Linked DNA regions of Homo sapiens: region 1 is linked to region 2. The links come from fine-mapping of genetic effects on gene expression. A gene starts in region 2. The other region holds a variant in brackets. All regions are shown on one strand. Distances are from middle to middle. Region 1 has its middle 60 kb from the start of IQCJ. Region 2 holds the start of RARRES1 (retinoic acid receptor responder 1).

Region 1 (8,338 bases), 280 kb after region 2:
TGAAATTCAATTGCAGGGCCATCTGGTTCAGGGGGTTTATGTCCTTGTCATGAGATAATTGTATTATCTATACATCAGCAGTGATATCCTCCTTTTAACTGAGTCATCTCACAATTTCTGAAAGTATTTTTATTTGACCATTATTTTTAATTAAAGGAGTAGAGCAGTGCAGCATATCAAAGAATGTTCACAAAAAGGTTGAATATGGTATTTTATGGTTTAGTTTCTTAAACGGCTAAGGTGGGTCTCTCCTGCTTTTTTGTTTCTCTCCTTCCCCAACTATAATCCTCTAGAAAATTTTAGTAGGAATATACACAGCAGAAGTGCAAACTGGTAAAAGGATAAAACGATTATTTCTTTTTAAATTTGTAGGTGGAAGTAGCGATGGGGTAAATGTTAGAAGAATGTAAGAGGAGTTTTTAGACATTTAAGGAGTTGTGCCAAAAGAGTAAGAGAGACAAACGTATGTGTGGAAGTTTGCTGGGGTGACAGAATGAATTACAGTGGACAGACCTAGATAAAGGAGAGGAAGTAAGTGTGGGGAAGGTAAACAAGTAAAAGACATTTAGAGAGTGAGAGTGAAAAACAGGGGAGGTTACTATGAGCATCCTGAGCCTAACACAGAGGGGAGAAAAATCTACAACAATAATCATATAGTGGAAATTTTATTTTATTTTATTTTAAATAAAAATTTATCAATTTTTATAAAAATTATATTGTCGAAGTAATGAAACAGTACAGACAGATAAAACATACAAAATGGAGGTCCTATCACAATCTAACCACATAGGTTACCACTTCCATACAACATAATTCTATGCATATATTAAATGAATTAGTTAGATCTCATTAGTAAGATAAGATTGTACATTTAAAATACAGAAAATATGTTCTTAAGTGGAAAAAAGCAAGTGTGGAAGAGTATGTTCATTATTACTTTCCAGTTAAAATATATACATATATAGACATAGAAAAAGTTCTAGGAAATTTTAATTTAACATTTGTAATTTGTTGTGGAAGAATGTAGAAACACAGATGAATGAGCTTAGGAAGGAAATGAACTAGAGGAGAATACGTAACCACGGTGATTGTCTAGTCATTTATTTTCTATAAGAAACACTGCTTGGCTCACACCTGTAATCCAAGCACTTTGGGAGGCTAAAGCGGGCGGATCACAAGGTCAGGAGTTCGAGACCAGCCTGATGGTGAAACCCTGTCTCTACTAAAAATACAAAAATTAGCTGGGCGTGATGGCGGTTGCCTGTAATCCCAGCTACTCAGGAGACTGAGGCAGGAGAATCGCTTGAACCGGGAGGAGGAGGTTGCAGTGAGCTGAGATTGCACCACTACTCTCCAGCCTGGGTGGCAGAGCAAGACCCTGTCTCAAAAACAAAATTAATAAAAAAGGAAACACTGCTATGGGACTCACTGACATGAAAACCAGTGACCTAGAGTCTAAAGCCATTGCATCCCATTAGCAATTTTGTCAGTCATCTTAAAGAAAATCTGAAGGGCAAATGAACATGGTCCAGGGTACTCTGGAACTATGAACTGAATGAGAAAATGGAACGAGAAATTTGACTTGCTGAAATGAAGAAGCTGACACCTCACATACTTTTCTCTGAGAGTTGTACCATTGGCATGAAAAATGTGAGTGCAGTCTGAATAAATTGTTTTGGTAATGTTTTGGAGTTCTGTTCTCCCACACAATTTCAAAGACTTTCACTTCTTCCCACTCATCTTCACCTAACTTTCCATTTTGTGTTTTAAGTTTTGCAAACGTTATATATAAATACAAAGTTTGAGCAATTCTGTATCTAGGATTTTATCTTATTGACATACTTACACATGCAGGTAAGTATGTATGTTCATCCTTGCAGAAATATCTGTAATAGCAAAAGAAAGAAACGATGTAAACATCCATCACCCAGGTAGCATCTACAAGTCAGAGGGATAATATTTAAAATATTATTCCTGGGCATGCTTCTTTTCTCTGGGTCCATAAGCATTTCCAGTTAGTTTGAGAAGCCCATCTACCTGAGAGGAGAGCATTATTAGTTTCTGATATGCAAAGTAGGATCACCCAGCAAGGTGATAGCCTGGAAAGCCAGGCTGTTATCTGGAGAGAGGATTTTGAAAAGATCATTATCTCCCTCCTTCAACATAGGAAGGAACCAAAAATGATACTCCTGCCTATGACAGCAAAGCCACGGGGCTGCCTTCTATATCTTTCATGGTAGAAGAAGCCTGGAGAGCAGAGGAGATAAGAAAAAAGCCTGACCCTTTTCTACCTTGGGAAATTTGGGGAAGAGGAAGTAAAGGAAGGAAGCCAGTGAAATAAAATCTGTGTATCCCAGTTTTCCCCCTTGCTGATTTTTTTCCAGGCAGGGAACAGAAAGTTAGTTAAGGGAGGCTGACCCTGAAGGCAGGGGGTATTTTGCTTCCCCTTCTTTTTTTTTTTTTTTGCCCTACTCCCCTGCTTTCCCTTCTTATGTAGAATCTAGAGATCTCTTGTGGGACTCTGGCCCATGCATCTGGCTGAGGCCATCTCACTTTGATAGGTTCAACTTCCACATAGTTCCAGAAAACAGGGTAAAAAGCAAACACACAAAAACAAGCAAAAGAAAATCTGGAGGTTTTTTTTTAATTATTATTATTTTATTTCCTTTTTTTTTTTTTTAAAGAATTCCTTGGTGAAAGCAGAGTGCAAGCTCATTCTTATCTAAAAGCATTCTGCCTTGTGGCCAATGAAGCTGAGCTTGGGCCACTGACTACTGATGTGAAATTCCAGAAAAAAACAGCAAACTACCCAAACCTCATTAGTGACTGTCTAGGTTCATTGCCTACCCTTAAAAGGATTATCTGGGAGTCTGAGGCAGGAGAATCGCTTGAACCCAGGAGACAGAGACTGTGGTGAGCAGAGATCGCACCATTGCACTCCAGCCTGGGTAACAAGTGTGAAACTCTGTCTCAAGGATTATCAAAGAGATATGGATAAAATATTCATACTGGTAATCATTCTGCTAAACATCAGGTTATCCTGAGGAATCTTGCCCCTAGCTAGGACTCCTCTCATGCCAAAACAGGCTGTGCTGACAATGTCGTGTGTCAGGAGAATGAAGATAAGTTACCACTTAGAACACTCTGGCTATTTAGAGCATCACCATTCTAAGTAACTAAAAGGTTTACACTTAGAAATAAATGGTGGTTTATCTTCCCTTTCTTCTGCTGTGGGATGGTACCAGCGTGCAGGCCCAACAGCAGCTTCTCTGTAAATGCCTGTACCCAGGAGTCTCAGAGCTGGGCTCAGTGCCCAAAAAAGTAAGAGCAAGAAAAATGAAAATACTGTACACACTGAAGAAAGCTGGGCGGGAAACAACCCTGCTCAGAATTAATGAGCTCCAGCAAATCCCTGCCCTAACAGGAGGATTTCACGTCTACTGTGTCTGAAGGTTGACTTTGTGTTTAAATAAAATCCCGATTTATTTTAAAGAGGACTTACAGATTATTTCTGAGACTTGTGAGCTCTCTGAGTCTAATCGCAAATTCTCCTCTTAATTCCTCCTCTTTTTCATCAGATTTTGAAAATAGAGGGAAAACACATACCTGTTGTTCACCCTCCCTACCCACCCCAAGTGAAATATAGATTTCAGTGTAAATGCTTAACTTCACTGACAAGTAGACTGCGATTCTACTTGCGGGTATCCCATGATCTAGTTCTGTGACCTTATGCAAGCCGTTTGACATCTCTGGGCTTTGGTTGCCTCACCTAAGTAATGGGTGTGGGTTTTGTTTAATTTACTTGAAGGTACCTTCCACCTCCAAGAACCTCCAGATTCATACCCACACCCCTTTCTGTGACCTTCTCAACCCTTGGGAAGCCTTCTTACCTTTCCAGACTTTCAGTAACCTCAGGCTTGGATCCTGTCCAC[A/G]TTCCTCCCCTTCCCACTTGCCATCAAATCTCTGTTAGCTGAGAAGCCAGAAAACCTCTGAGCATGGATGGCTTCTGTTGGTTTTAGCGCCTAGCTATTTCAGTTTGAATAAGTGCAGTTTCCTTTGTTGCACTTTTGGCAAAAGTCACCAGTGATAGCCCTTTATTTATTTGGCCGTTTACCTGGTTAAGGGCTACCTTCCTGCAGCATGTTTTGTTTTGGTTTCTTTCTGCTTACCCTGTATCCCTAATGCACAGCAGTGTCCAGTACACACTAGTCATGTCCAGCAGTACATTTTTGAATGAATAAATGGATGCGTCCTTTCCTGGCAGCGTATCTTAAATCACATTTAGCAGGCAGCCAAAGGTTGACCTTGCTGGAATCTTGGTTGGTGTATGTAGGTCCATCTTGACCCCCCTATCTAAAATAACCATCAGCCTCCTTCCCTCGCACCCCTGCCCATCCACCTTTGGACCTTTTCCATTCTTTTATCTTGCCTAATTTTATTTCCTAGCACTTACATTACCCGAGTTTATTTATTCCTAGCTTTTTAGGTCTCTTCGACTAGAATGTACACATCTGAGGGCAGGGACCTTCTTCACCTTATTTAAGGCTGTATCTTCAGCACCTAGAACAGTACCAGCACATAGTAGGCTTTTAATAAATGTTTGTTAGCTGAATTAATGAAAAATGACTTATCACTTGTAGCTTATTCAAATGATGTGGACGCTCTCTTCCTTGCAGTGTCCCAGGCTGTTCCCAGGTAATATTCTTCTCCCTGTTCCCAAGAACACATTGGACCGTCATATTTTTGTGATTTCTTCCACAAAGCCAGAGCAGAAGCCATGTTCTTTACTGACAGTCAATTCAGAATAGATCATCTTCTTCCTCACTTCACTCTCTTTGCCTTTGTTTTTAGTTTTCAGGACCTCTGAGAAGAAAGAGAAAGGAGACTTGAACAGAGTATACTAACTCTTCCATACAATAAAGTTTCCTTCGCTGGGCAGGCAGGCATGCGTGGTACCAAGACCTCTCTGGTGGCTAAGTAACATCTGTTCTAACGAAGTCTGATGGCTTGCGAAACACTGAAGGCTGCTAGCTGCCTCGAGCAGTACCCAGGGTACCTTCCCTACCTGGTGTTGCTGCTGCTGATTTGGTGGTTGCATTTCTCATCTTTTTATGCCTTTGGGCATGTGTTTGTTGTTGACATCTACAGAACCTCTGAGCTTTCTTATTGTAAAAGTGAAATAAAGGAGCTGGATTAACAGATGTTTTTGTTTTGTTGTATAGAGGAGAATTATGTCCTCTGTCAAAGAATATTTTCATACGGTTCAGTATCTTTTTCTTAATTATGTTTTAAAATCTAAAGTGTGTGTACGTGTGTGTTTGTTGTTTGGGCAGTTTGGTGAGTAAAGGATGGGATGGAAACAGTGGGACGTATGAAGTCATTTCTTTTTTTTATTATACTTTAAGTTTCAGGGTACATGTGCACAACGTGCAGGTTTGTTACATATGTATACATGTGCCATGTTGGTGTGCTGCACCCATTAACTCGTCATTTAACATTCGGTATATCTCCTAATGCTATCCGTCCCCCCTCTGCCTACCCCACAACAGGCCCCAGTATGTGATGTTCCCCTTCCTGTGTCCATGTGTTCTCATTGTTCAATTCCCATCTATGAGTGAGAACCTGCAGTGTTTTGTTTTTTGTTGTTGCGATAGTTTGCTGAGAATGATGGTTTCCAGCTTCATCCATGTCCCTACAAAGGACGTGAACACTTCATTTTTTATGGCTGGATAGTATTCCATGGTGTATATGTGCCACATTTTCTTAATCCAGTCTATCATTGTTGGACATTTGGGTTGGTTCCAAGTCTTTGCTATTGTGAATAGTGCTGCAGTAAACATAAGTATGCATGTGTCTTTATAGCAGCATGATTTATAGTCGTTTGGGTATATACCCAGTAATGGGATGGCTGGGTCAAATGGTATTTCTAGTTCTAGATCCCTGAGGAATCGCCACACTGACTTCCACAATGGTTGAACTAGTTTACAGTCCCACCAACAGTGTAAAAGTGTTCCTGTTTCCCCACATCCTCTCCAGCACCTGTTGTTTCCTGACTTTTTAATGATCGCCATTCTAACTGGTGTGAGATGGTATCTCATTGTGGTTTTGATTTGCATTTCTCTGATGGCCAGTGATGATGAGCATTTTTTCATATGTCTATTGGCTGCATAAATGTCTTCTTTTGAGAAGTGTCTGTTCATATCCTTCACCCACTTGTTGATGGGGTTGTTTGTTTTTTTCTTGTAAATTTGTTTGAGTTCATTGTAGATTCTGGATATTAGCCCTTTGTCAGATGATTAGATTGCAAAAATTTTCTCCCATTCTGTAGGCTGCCTGTTCACTCTGATGGTAGTTTCTTTTTCTGTGCAGAAGCTCTTTAATTTAATTAGATCCCGTTTGTCAATTTTGGCTTTTGTTGCCATTGCTTTTGGTGTTTTAGACATGAAGTCCTTGCTCATGCCTATGTCCTGAATGGTACTGCCTAGGTTTTCTTCTAGGGTTTTTATGGTTTTAGGTCTAAGATTTAAGTCTTTAATCCATCTTGAATTAATTTTTGTATAAGGTGTAAGGAAGGGATCCTGTTTCAGCTTTCTACATATGGCTAGCCAGTTTTCCCAGCACCATTTATTAAGTAGGGAATCATTTCCCCATTTCTTATTTTTGTCAGGTTTGTCAAAGATCAGATAGTTGTAGATATATGTGGCATTATTTCTGAGAGCTCTGTTCTGTTCCATTGGTCTATATCTCTGTTTTGGTACCAGTACCATACTGTTTTGGTTACTGTAGCCTTGTAGTATGCATATGAAGTCATGTCTATAGGAAAGACTTCTGGTTTCTATAAGAGATTATAAGCACATTTCTTCATGCTTCTAATAGACTTTTATGTTTGTTTGTGCAGCGGGCACAGATGAGCTTGAATTTAACCCAAAGTGGCTGACAGACTGACAGATACTGCTCCCTAAAAGCCTGATAAAGGGTTCTAAACATTGAGAAAATAAGTGAGAACAAATGAGGCAATAGAAAATGTTTATGTTGCAAAGCATTTATAATTTGTTTGATAGGATTAGAAGTCACTTGCTGACTGTTCTTCATATCATGTTGGCCTTTAATATTGGCTTTCTGGAGTAAAAATCAGATATAGTTTAGAAAAAATTCCAATTATAAAGTACAGTTAATGTTTATGAATGCTTAACTTTGTTAAAATGAGTTAGTCTTCTTAATAAAGTGAATATTGAAAACAATTTCTTATTAACATGATGTGGGTTTGATGAAAAAAGCACTGCTTCCCTATATAGTAGCACCTTGAAAAACAATTGTCTAACCTATTTACTCGTCTACTTTGTGTAGGAATTGTACCATATAAATTATTCCTACCAAGGATGTACTGTTTTATGTGACTTCATTGTTAGTCTTCTACTTTAGATCTCTTCTACCACTAATTTAGCAAAACTGCATTTAAATCAGTCCCCAATGAGAAGACCTGGAGTTCACATTTTTGCTTTTAATAGACACATTAGTCTTCCTACATGGTAAGATTTCATAAATGGCTTCTTGTTCTTTTCTTGGGAGATAGCTATTATATATCACTCAGTGCATTTCTGGTCTTCCCTTAGGGAATTTACAGGGGTTGTCATTGCTTTGGCTTCAGCAGAAACACAAGATGTTTTAAATTGAATCTTGTATTTGTGCTTGGGATCGATAAAAGTCTTTGTGTACATTTTAACAAGAGTCCTGTAAAGGTTATATTGGCTAAACTAATTTGAATCACCAAATATTACTTTAATACCTAGTTATTTGCACTTTGCTTTCTCCTCAGCCCCAGTAAGGAGATCAGGGGAGGGATTAGAGGAAGGGATGAGGTGAGACTATTGGAAGGATTATTTACATGTTGGCACTGGGGCATAAAGGCCATGGGAGTCCATGAGTCAGGTATTATCCTTCCAGGTGAGAAGCTATGGTTTCAGTTAACCTTTTGTCTTATTTTGAAACATTATATAATGTAATTCGTGTTCATATTAGAAAACTAGGTAATATGAATTAATAAAAATAAAAAAAAATCCATAATTTCACCATCCAGAGATATTTACTCTTAAAATTTTGGTTATAACCTTTTATACTTTTATATTTATGTTTGCCTTTTTGAAAAACAATACATCCTTTATCAACTGCTTAACTGTCCTTGACTTATGCTACGTAATACAGAAAAGAAGAATGGCACTACCATCCCAGATCATCAACTCCCCAAGTGACTGGTCTGAGATAAATTAGAAGAACACATAGAAGCCCCAGAGAGCCTTCAGAAGAGAAAATAATATGCATAAGCTGCCTCAGTGAAGTC
Region 2 (8,309 bases):
ATTATTTTATGAAGGATGTCAAATATCTTATTTTATTTTCAAGGGGGTGACTAAGTGCATGATAATGCAAGTTATTTTATTATTCCTTTATTTATTTATTTATTTATTTGAGACGGAGTCTCGCTCTGTTGCCCAGGCTGGAGTGCAGTGGCACCATCTTGGCTCACTGCAACCTCTGCCTCCCGGGTTCAAGCAATTCTCTATCTCAGCCTCCCGAGTAGCTGGGATTACAGGTGCCTGCCACCATGCCCGGCTAATTTCTTTTTGTATTTTTAGTAGAGAAGGGGTTTCACTATCTTGGCCAGGCTGGTCTTGAACTCCTGACCTTGTAATCTGCCCACCTCGGCCTCCCAAAGTGCTGAGATTACAGGCGTGAGCCACCGCGCCCAGCCTATTATTCCTTTTTAAAATGGTTTGGAAGGGGAAAAAAAATCTCTGGGATTGAAAACTGGTGTACCTTAGAAATCTGAGTGAGCTTGGTTTTCTGCAGGGAATCCTGCCCCTGGTAACCAGGGAGCAAATCCTTAGACGCCCCTTCTTTAGGCTCTGGGCATTGGCTACTACTCTTCTACCTTGATAGAAAGTTCTCAAGGTCCGTTATCTCACTGCTCTGTTGGACTAGGAAAACTGAACTTTTTTGTATCTCAGACAGCAAGGATTGTTAAGACAGGTGACAAGATGGCCCGGCACGGTGGCTCATGCCTGTAATCCCAGCACTTTGGGAGACCCAGGCGGCCAGATCACGAGGTCAGGAGTTCGAGAACAGCCTGCCCAACATGGTGAAACCCTGTCTCTACTAGAAATAGAAAACTTAGCCAGGCGTGGTGGCACGTGCCTGTAATCCCAGCTACTCAGGAGGCTGAGGCAGGAGAATCGCTTGAACCTGGTAGGCGGAGGTTGCAGTAAGCCGAGATCGCAGCGCTGCACTCCAGCCTGGGCAACAGAGCAAGACTCTGTCTCAAAAAAAAAAAAAAAAAAACAAAGACAGGTGACAAGAATAGGTTGCTCCTTCCTTCCTTCCTTCCTTCCTTCCTTCCTTCCTTCCTTCCTTCCTTCCTCTCTCTCTTTCTCTCTCTTTTTTTTCCCCATAGGGTCTCACTCTGTTGCCTAGGCTGGAGGGCAGTGGCACATTCTCTGCTCACTGCAACCTCCAGGTCCTGGGGTCCTGGGCTCAAGCAATCCTCCCATCTCAGCCTCCTGAGTAGCTGGGACCACAGGCCCACGCCACCACATCGGCTAATTTTTTTTTAATTTTTAATTTTTTTTATTTTTGGCAGAGATGGTACTTTGCCATGTTACCCAGACTGGTCTACAACTCCTGAGCTCAAGCGATTTGCCCACCTCGGCCTCCCAAAGTGCTGAGATTACAGGCGTGAGCCACCATGCCCCAGCAGGTTGCCTTTTTCTTTATTATTTTATTTTATTTTATTTATTTTATTTTGAGAGGGAGTTTTGCTCTTGTTACCCAGGCTGGAGTGCAGTGGCGCAATCTCGGCTCACCGCAACCTCCGCCTCCCAAGTTCAAGCGATTCTCCTGCCTCAGCCTCCCAAGTAGCTGGGATTACAGGCATGCGCCACCACACCCAGCTAATTTTGTATTTTTAGTAGAGACAGGGTTTCTCCATGTTGGTCAGGCTGGTCTCGAACTCCCGACCTCAGGTGATCCACCTGTCTCGGCCTCCCAAAGTGCTGGGATTACAGGCGTGAGCCACCGTGCCTGGCCAGGTTGCCTTTTTCTAGGAACAATTTGATTTAATCATTCAATAAATACAGCCGTGCCGGGTACAGGAATAAGTTTTGAAGAACCGAGGCTGAGCTTCTTGAAGGACTTTCCAATGGTGTTTGCTTCCAGGCGTTTGGCACTGTTAAATGAAAATCCTGCTGCTACACTTTAAAACTCGACCTATTTATTAAATACATGCGATACTCAATTCCAGATTCTTTGAGGCCGTGTGTCTGCAGGCTTTGTGGAATATCTGGAGGTTGTAGAAGGAGCAACTTTGCTTTTGGGACAGACTTAGTGTAGTTCTGTAACTTTTGTAATCTATAGGATGAAGAACGCAAAGTAGCTTCACACATACGAGACAATTCCTACAGTCAATGCCTTGAAATCAGCAACCAAACAACGGGTTGCAAAGTTCTCATTCATTCGGTTCATATAGAACACTGGGCTCGGATTCACTCACTTCTAATTAGATCAAATCAGACGCCAGCATTAGCAGGTTTCTGCCCAGGCCTACGTGTAAATTCCAACCACATTACCCCGAAGCCCTAGCGTGGTGGACTGCAATTAACAAGAGACAGTCGTCCGCGGTATGGTATGGCTACTGGCTTAGATTTTGGAAATCCCGCCCAAAACTTTGGCTGCAGCCACTAGTAGGGCGCAGGCACAGTAAGCACCCCCATAGCAACCAACTCTGGGTACCTCCGGACAAAATTAAATGTTGCCCTTTCAGCCTGTTCCTCAATTTCCCAAAGCATCTCTTTCCCAGGTGTGGGAGCAGTCAAGAGCGCTGCCCTGTGAAAAACCTATGACCTCATAAATGCTGGAAGGAACGAGCCAGATTTCTGCAGACGCTGTGCACCGAAGGGGCCCCTTCCACGCCCTGGGATACTTCAGGGGCGCCAGGCCCAGCTGGGATCTCCCCGGGCGTCGTGCGCACTGCACCTTCCCTGGCGGACCATCCGTTGGGCCGGCAGGCGCGCGTACCCAGGTGTCACCTCCCAGCGCCGTGCGCGGACAGGCAGGCGCGTGCCCCGGCGCGTCGCTCCGCACTCACCCACGCGCGGCCCTCCTGCACCTCGGCCAGCACTCGTAGCGCGCTGGGCGAGCCGGACCGGAAGTTGAAGAAGTGAAGCGCCGCGCGCGCCGCCTGCTGCAGGAGCCTGCGCGGGACCCCAGCATCCTGAGGCTGCCCAGGGTCGTCGGGGTCCCCGGACCCCGCGGGCGCCGCCACCGGGGCGAGCAACAGCAGCAGCGCGAGCAGCGGGGCGGTGGGGCGCGGGCCCCTGGGCCCGGACCAGGGAGCAGGCAGCCGTTGCCGGCGGGGCTGCATGGACGCAGGAAAGTTGGCTCGGCACCCGACAGACACGGGCTCGGAGCGGGCAGTGCCGGCGCTCGCGGAAATAAGGCCGTGGTGGGCCCCTCCCCTCCGCCCCCAGGGCGAAGGTCTGTAGCGAGCCCGGGTCCCCATGGGGCCACTCCTTTTCCACGTTTCCCGCAGCCCCTGGGTTCTCTCTGCCCCTCCCCGCTGCCCGGGCTTAGTGCTAGGATGCGGCATCGCCTCCGCAGCGCAGGGCCGGGTGCTTCTGGCCCAGGCCGCGGCGGGAGAGGGTCGGGGTTGGGGGGACAATGGGGACGCCTCCCCGAGGAATCGCGGCCCGCCCGTGCTACCTCGTACCGCGTCCCTAGCCCAGCTCAGGGACTTGGCGTTTCCCCTGCGGTTTCGCAACCCTGGGGTTTTAGAGGGAAACTGCTTGGATTCTCCAAGCATTAGGGCTGTGATTTCCCAGCAGGTGAAAGGGGACGGCGGAGAAAGGGGCAGGCCGCAGCGGGCATTGATGGGGCTCCTCGTGGCACAGCCACTGTGGAGGTGGGAGAAGTCGCCAGAGGGCTGGGGCTGGGGAGGAGGTGAAGGTGGATGCCGGCAGGGAGCCCGGGACGCCGGAGCCAGGGGCTGGGGACGGGCCTGAACACCTGCCGGTCCTGCCCAGAAGAGGCGCCGAGGAGGGAGGAGTGGGCAGCAAGGCAGGGTAAGATAAGGCCTGAGAGTCCCATTTGTCTCAGAAGCAAGTAGGTCATTGATACATTGATAACCACTGTGCGAGGCAGATTTAAAGGCCGGGGATGGAAGTCGGATTCCAGCGGGGTGAGGCATGGATGGGGCTTCAGGGAATGGAGGCAGCAAGTGTTGGCAACTCTTTTTTTTTTTTTTTTTTTTGAGACCATGTCTTGCTCTGTCTCCCAGGCTGGAGTGCAGTGGCACGATCTTGGCTCACTGCAACCTCCGCCTCCCAGGTTCAAGCAATTCTACCTCAGCCTCCCGAGTAGCTGGGACTACAGCCACCATGCCCGGCTAATTTTTGTATTTTTAGTAAAGACGGGGTTTCACCATGTTGGTCAGGCTGGTCTCAAACTCCTGACCTCGTGAGCCGCCCGCCTGGGCCTCCCAAAGTGCTGGGATTACAGGCGTGAGCCACGGTACCCGGCGGCAACTCTTTTTAGACAGGTGGCAGTGAAGGGCTAAGATAGCCATTGTTTTTAAACCGTAGGCAAGAGAAAAAGTCCTGGAGAACCAGGGCTGAGAGAGGAGAACTGGTACTGCTAGGCACTCCCAACATCCATTTCTCCATCCTGCATTTTGTTCAGGGGTCTACCCCTGCACCAAACGTGGACCCCAGTGCCATTGTGGGGCTAAAGGAAATCTCTTTTTGCCAGTGGGTGGTTGAGAGTGGGCATGTGCCAGTTCTGCATGGTGAGCAAAGCCTGTGGGTTGATGGGCGTGGTGCCATCTCTGGAAAGATCCTGTCTTACTGCACTTCTTCCTCTGGCTGTTGTCTGTCCCTTGTCTGTCTTTCCTTCCTTCTGCAGATAATTGTGAAACACCTGTGCCAGGCCCTGGGGGAATGAGGGTGAACAATCTTAAACATCTCTGCCTTCCTGGAGCACACCTTCTAGGCAAGTGGGGCCCGGACACTCAGTGAGGCCAAGGGAATGTGTGCTATATTGGATGAAGTTACATGCCAGGGAGAAAAATTAAGCCAGAAAAAGAAATGGGGAGTTGGGAGGTGGTTAATCTTAAAAGGTGTGGTCAGGGCAGGCCTCTCTCGGGAGGTAATATTTGGGTGAGGACCTGAAGGAGGCAGAGCCAAGTGGACATGTATGCAAAAGCACTGTAGGCAGAGGGAACGCAAGTGCAGAGGCTAGGGCAGGAGCCTATCTGGCATGTTTGAAGAAAAGCAAGAAAATCCAGCTGGAGGGAGAAGCCAAGGGGGAGAGTGCAGGCCCTCGATAGGCCCCAGTTAGGTCTGGCTGTGCTGCCCAGAAGCATGCCTCTGTCTTGCTGGCTGCCTGAGAATGAAGCCCATTTCAAGAGTGGCAGAGCAGAGAGAGGGGAGGGCCCTGGGTTCCTGATGGCATTGTTGAACACAGGAATCAGCGGATCCTGGAGTTTATTTCTTATTATTTCACTTCCCTGAAGCTGGAGTTGCTGTTTCTTGCCCTCAGAGGCAAGCCTAGCACAGGTAATCACCTCCCAGAACCCAGTCATCTCCCCATAGTTTGTTTTGTGCTGCAATAATAGAATACCTGAGACTGGGTAATTTATAAAGAACAGATATCTGTTTCTCACAGTTCTGGAGGTTGGAAGTCCAAGATCCAGGCACCAACAGGCTTGGTGTCTGGTGGGGTCTTAGCTCTGTCTCTGCTTCCAAAATGGGGCTTTGCGTGCTTCATCCTATGAAGGGGAGGAACGCTGTGTCCTCACATGCTGGAAGAGTGAGAGAGTACCCACTCTTATGACCTAAACACCTCACTCTAGGCCCCACCTCCCAACATTCTTGCACTGGGAATTGAGTTTCAACATGAATTTTGGAGGGGACAAAAACACCCAAACTATAGCACCCTCCAAGAGGTTATAGTAGCAGGCTTTTTGAGAATTGATCACTTCCAGGTGATTTTACTTCAGTGCTTTGTTCCCTGTGAGTATGTTAGATTGCTTTCAACTGTATGTAATGGAAAACCCGATTAACAGTGTGGACCATTTATTGGTTTGGAGTGGGAGATCTCAGTGAGTTTCTGAAAGACCCAGGCTCTCTCCATCCTTCTGCACAGCCATCCTCAGCTGGTTGGCTTTTTGTCCATGCACTTGTAGTTTCCTGGTTATAGAATGGCTGCCACAGCTCCAGACAGCACATCTTCACATGCTGCAGCCAAAGGCAGGTAGCAGGGAATAGGTTGCCAGAGTGGAAAGAGAGCTGGACATTGTGCACCTGTTTGTTTTTTGCATCAGGAAGAAATATCTTTTCCAGAACCTCCTGCCTACACCTTTCTTCCCCCCAAGACCTTCCTTTATACCTCCTCAGCCAGATCTGGGTTACACTGGCAAAGCCTAGCTGCAAGGGAGGCTGGCAAACTGAGTGTCTGTCGTTTTTCAGAGTCAATGGTCTGGTCTGTAAACTAGGATTAAATTTAACTGCATGGAATAAACACCCGAATGACATTGGCTTAAACAGGAGAGGAACTTATTTCTCAAAAGAAGTTGTGGGGTAATGGTGGGATGGTAGACAATCTGCGGTTGGTATTGGCAGATCCATGAGGTTGTTAGAGGTCCAGGCCTTTTCCAGATCTCTGCTCCCACATCCTGAGGATGTACCCCTTGCCCTCAGGGTCCACGATGGACACTAGCCATCAGCAGGACTCCCTTTATGGATTTCCTAGAAGTCTCACAGGGCACTTGTGCCCTGTATCTTATTGGCAAGAACTTGGTTGCAAAGGAAGCTGGGAAATGTAGTTTTTATTCACGGTGGCCATATGCCAAAATAAAACTCAGGATTTTGTTACTGAGGAAGAAGATTGTGTCTTACGTTGGGTTTCCTAGAAGCAGGCCCAGAAACAAAGATTGTTCCTAAAAGAAATGCTCCGAGCAGAATTCAGTAAGGAGCTAGAAGAAGGATAGCCATGCAAGGATCTCAGACAGTTATATGACAGGTAGGTTCAGCCTGACCTGAAGGGGAGCTCTCAACTGTAAACAATGCCTCTGAGATGTCCCTGCCCCAGGCAGGGTATCTGGGCTTCCATTCTTCTATGCCTGTCAGCCACTGGCTAAGAGCCACCCTCGTTGATAACCCAGGTACTTCAGTCTTTCTATAGGTGGGCACAAAAGGGCAGTAGCACAAGAACAGCCCTCCCAGAAGAGCTGCAGGAGCCTTAGGTCAGAAGCAAAAGCATGCCAAGTGGAAGGGGCAGACTCAGAGAAAGGGATCTGGGAATCTGCAGAGCCCCAGTGGGGTCCCTGCAGGGATAATGCCTAGTGGGAAGGAAGTAGCCACCTCTGTCACTGAGGCGAGGAGGGGAAGGGTGGGAATGGCTGATAGTGGCCAACAGGCAGCCTGTGCAGCGTGTGTGCAGTTCCTGCCTATGAGATGAGATGGTGAGAATCATGGAAAGTCATAAGCAAGAGGGAAGACAGAAAAGACCAGGAGACCAAGTGCTGCTGTGTGAGCTCAGGGCACTCTTCCGAGGTTAGCTATTTTAAATAGTGATAACAGTTACAATGGGGGCAAATTGATGCTGATCAGCAATGCATGTAGACATTTAATTATAGTATTTATTTTATAAACAGGGATTTTCTGGAACACAGAGTATTTCCTTTGCAAGAACTGTCCATATTCTTTGTCCACTTACCTGTGGGGTGGTTGGATTTCTGGTTGATTTGTAGAAGCTCTTTCAATACGAGGGAAATCAGGCCTTGGTCTGTCATGGGTATCCCTGTGTTTTTTCTCAGTTCATAGACAGATTTTGTGTGTACACAGATTCTTCTTCCTTGCCACATACTGTGTGGGGGAGTGACATTGCTAACTGTCCACCACGTTCTCCAAAAGACCTGTCATCATATCCCACCCCTGGCCCAGGGCTGCTGGAAGACTGTGCCACATAGGAGGTGAGGAAAGTATCAGCCAGCAGGTTCTGCCCCAGCCTCTGCACAGAAGCAGATGTGTCCCCACAAGGGTGTCCTGATATGTCATGTTCCCTAGTTCCTTAGTCATTGCTCAGGTTATCATGAGCATTTTAGAGAACTTACTTTGTGTTTAAGAAACCTAATGGTATATAAAGCTATAATGACTTTTAATCATATGAAAAGATAGTACAGACGGTGAGAGGGGAAACTGACATGACCTGTTTGGTGGACAATTTGCAATATCTATTGAAATTAGAAATGCACATGGCTCTGACCCAGCAATTCCACCTTGAGAGTTTATAATAACAATACATTCACACATGTACATAAAGAAGTATGTGCAAGGATGTTCATTTCCACATATGGATTGTAAACTCCTCCACGGCAGTGACACTGAATGTCTCATTTTCTACTCTCTATTCCCTAGAACAGTGACTGGCACACAATAGACACGAATACAGATTTTTTTTTTTAAACAATGAAGAGTTAAGGGCTGGGAAAACACCTGTGTTTCATGGTTGACTAATTATAGTACCTCCATAGAATGGAATATTGTACAGTCATGAAGAAGAGGTAGATTGAGGTGTGTGTGATACTGAACCATCTCTAAGGTATAATGTTGTTAACAGC

The links.
Region 1: its variant is fine-mapped to the expression of RARRES1 in transverse colon (GTEx, PIP above 0.99).

Annotation. Positions count from the first base shown.
Region 1 is chr3:159,005,325-159,013,662 of GRCh38, forward strand. No RefSeq gene overlaps it. Among named protein-coding and RNA genes, the nearest start is that of IQCJ, 60 kb to the right of the region's middle. The variant A/G (reference allele first, on the strand shown) is at 3,933.
Region 2 is chr3:158,729,360-158,737,668 of GRCh38, forward strand. It overlaps RARRES1 (retinoic acid receptor responder 1), which reads right to left and starts at 3,098. Exons shown (of 6, transcript NM_206963.2): 1 at 2,781-3,098. The coding sequence starts at 3,056. It overlaps LOC100287290 (a long non-coding RNA gene), which reads left to right and starts at 3,002. Exons shown (of 5, transcript NR_171782.1): 1 at 3,002-3,169; 2 at 4,592-4,678. RefSeq lists silencers at 9-187, 2,913-2,972 and an enhancer at 3,050-3,550.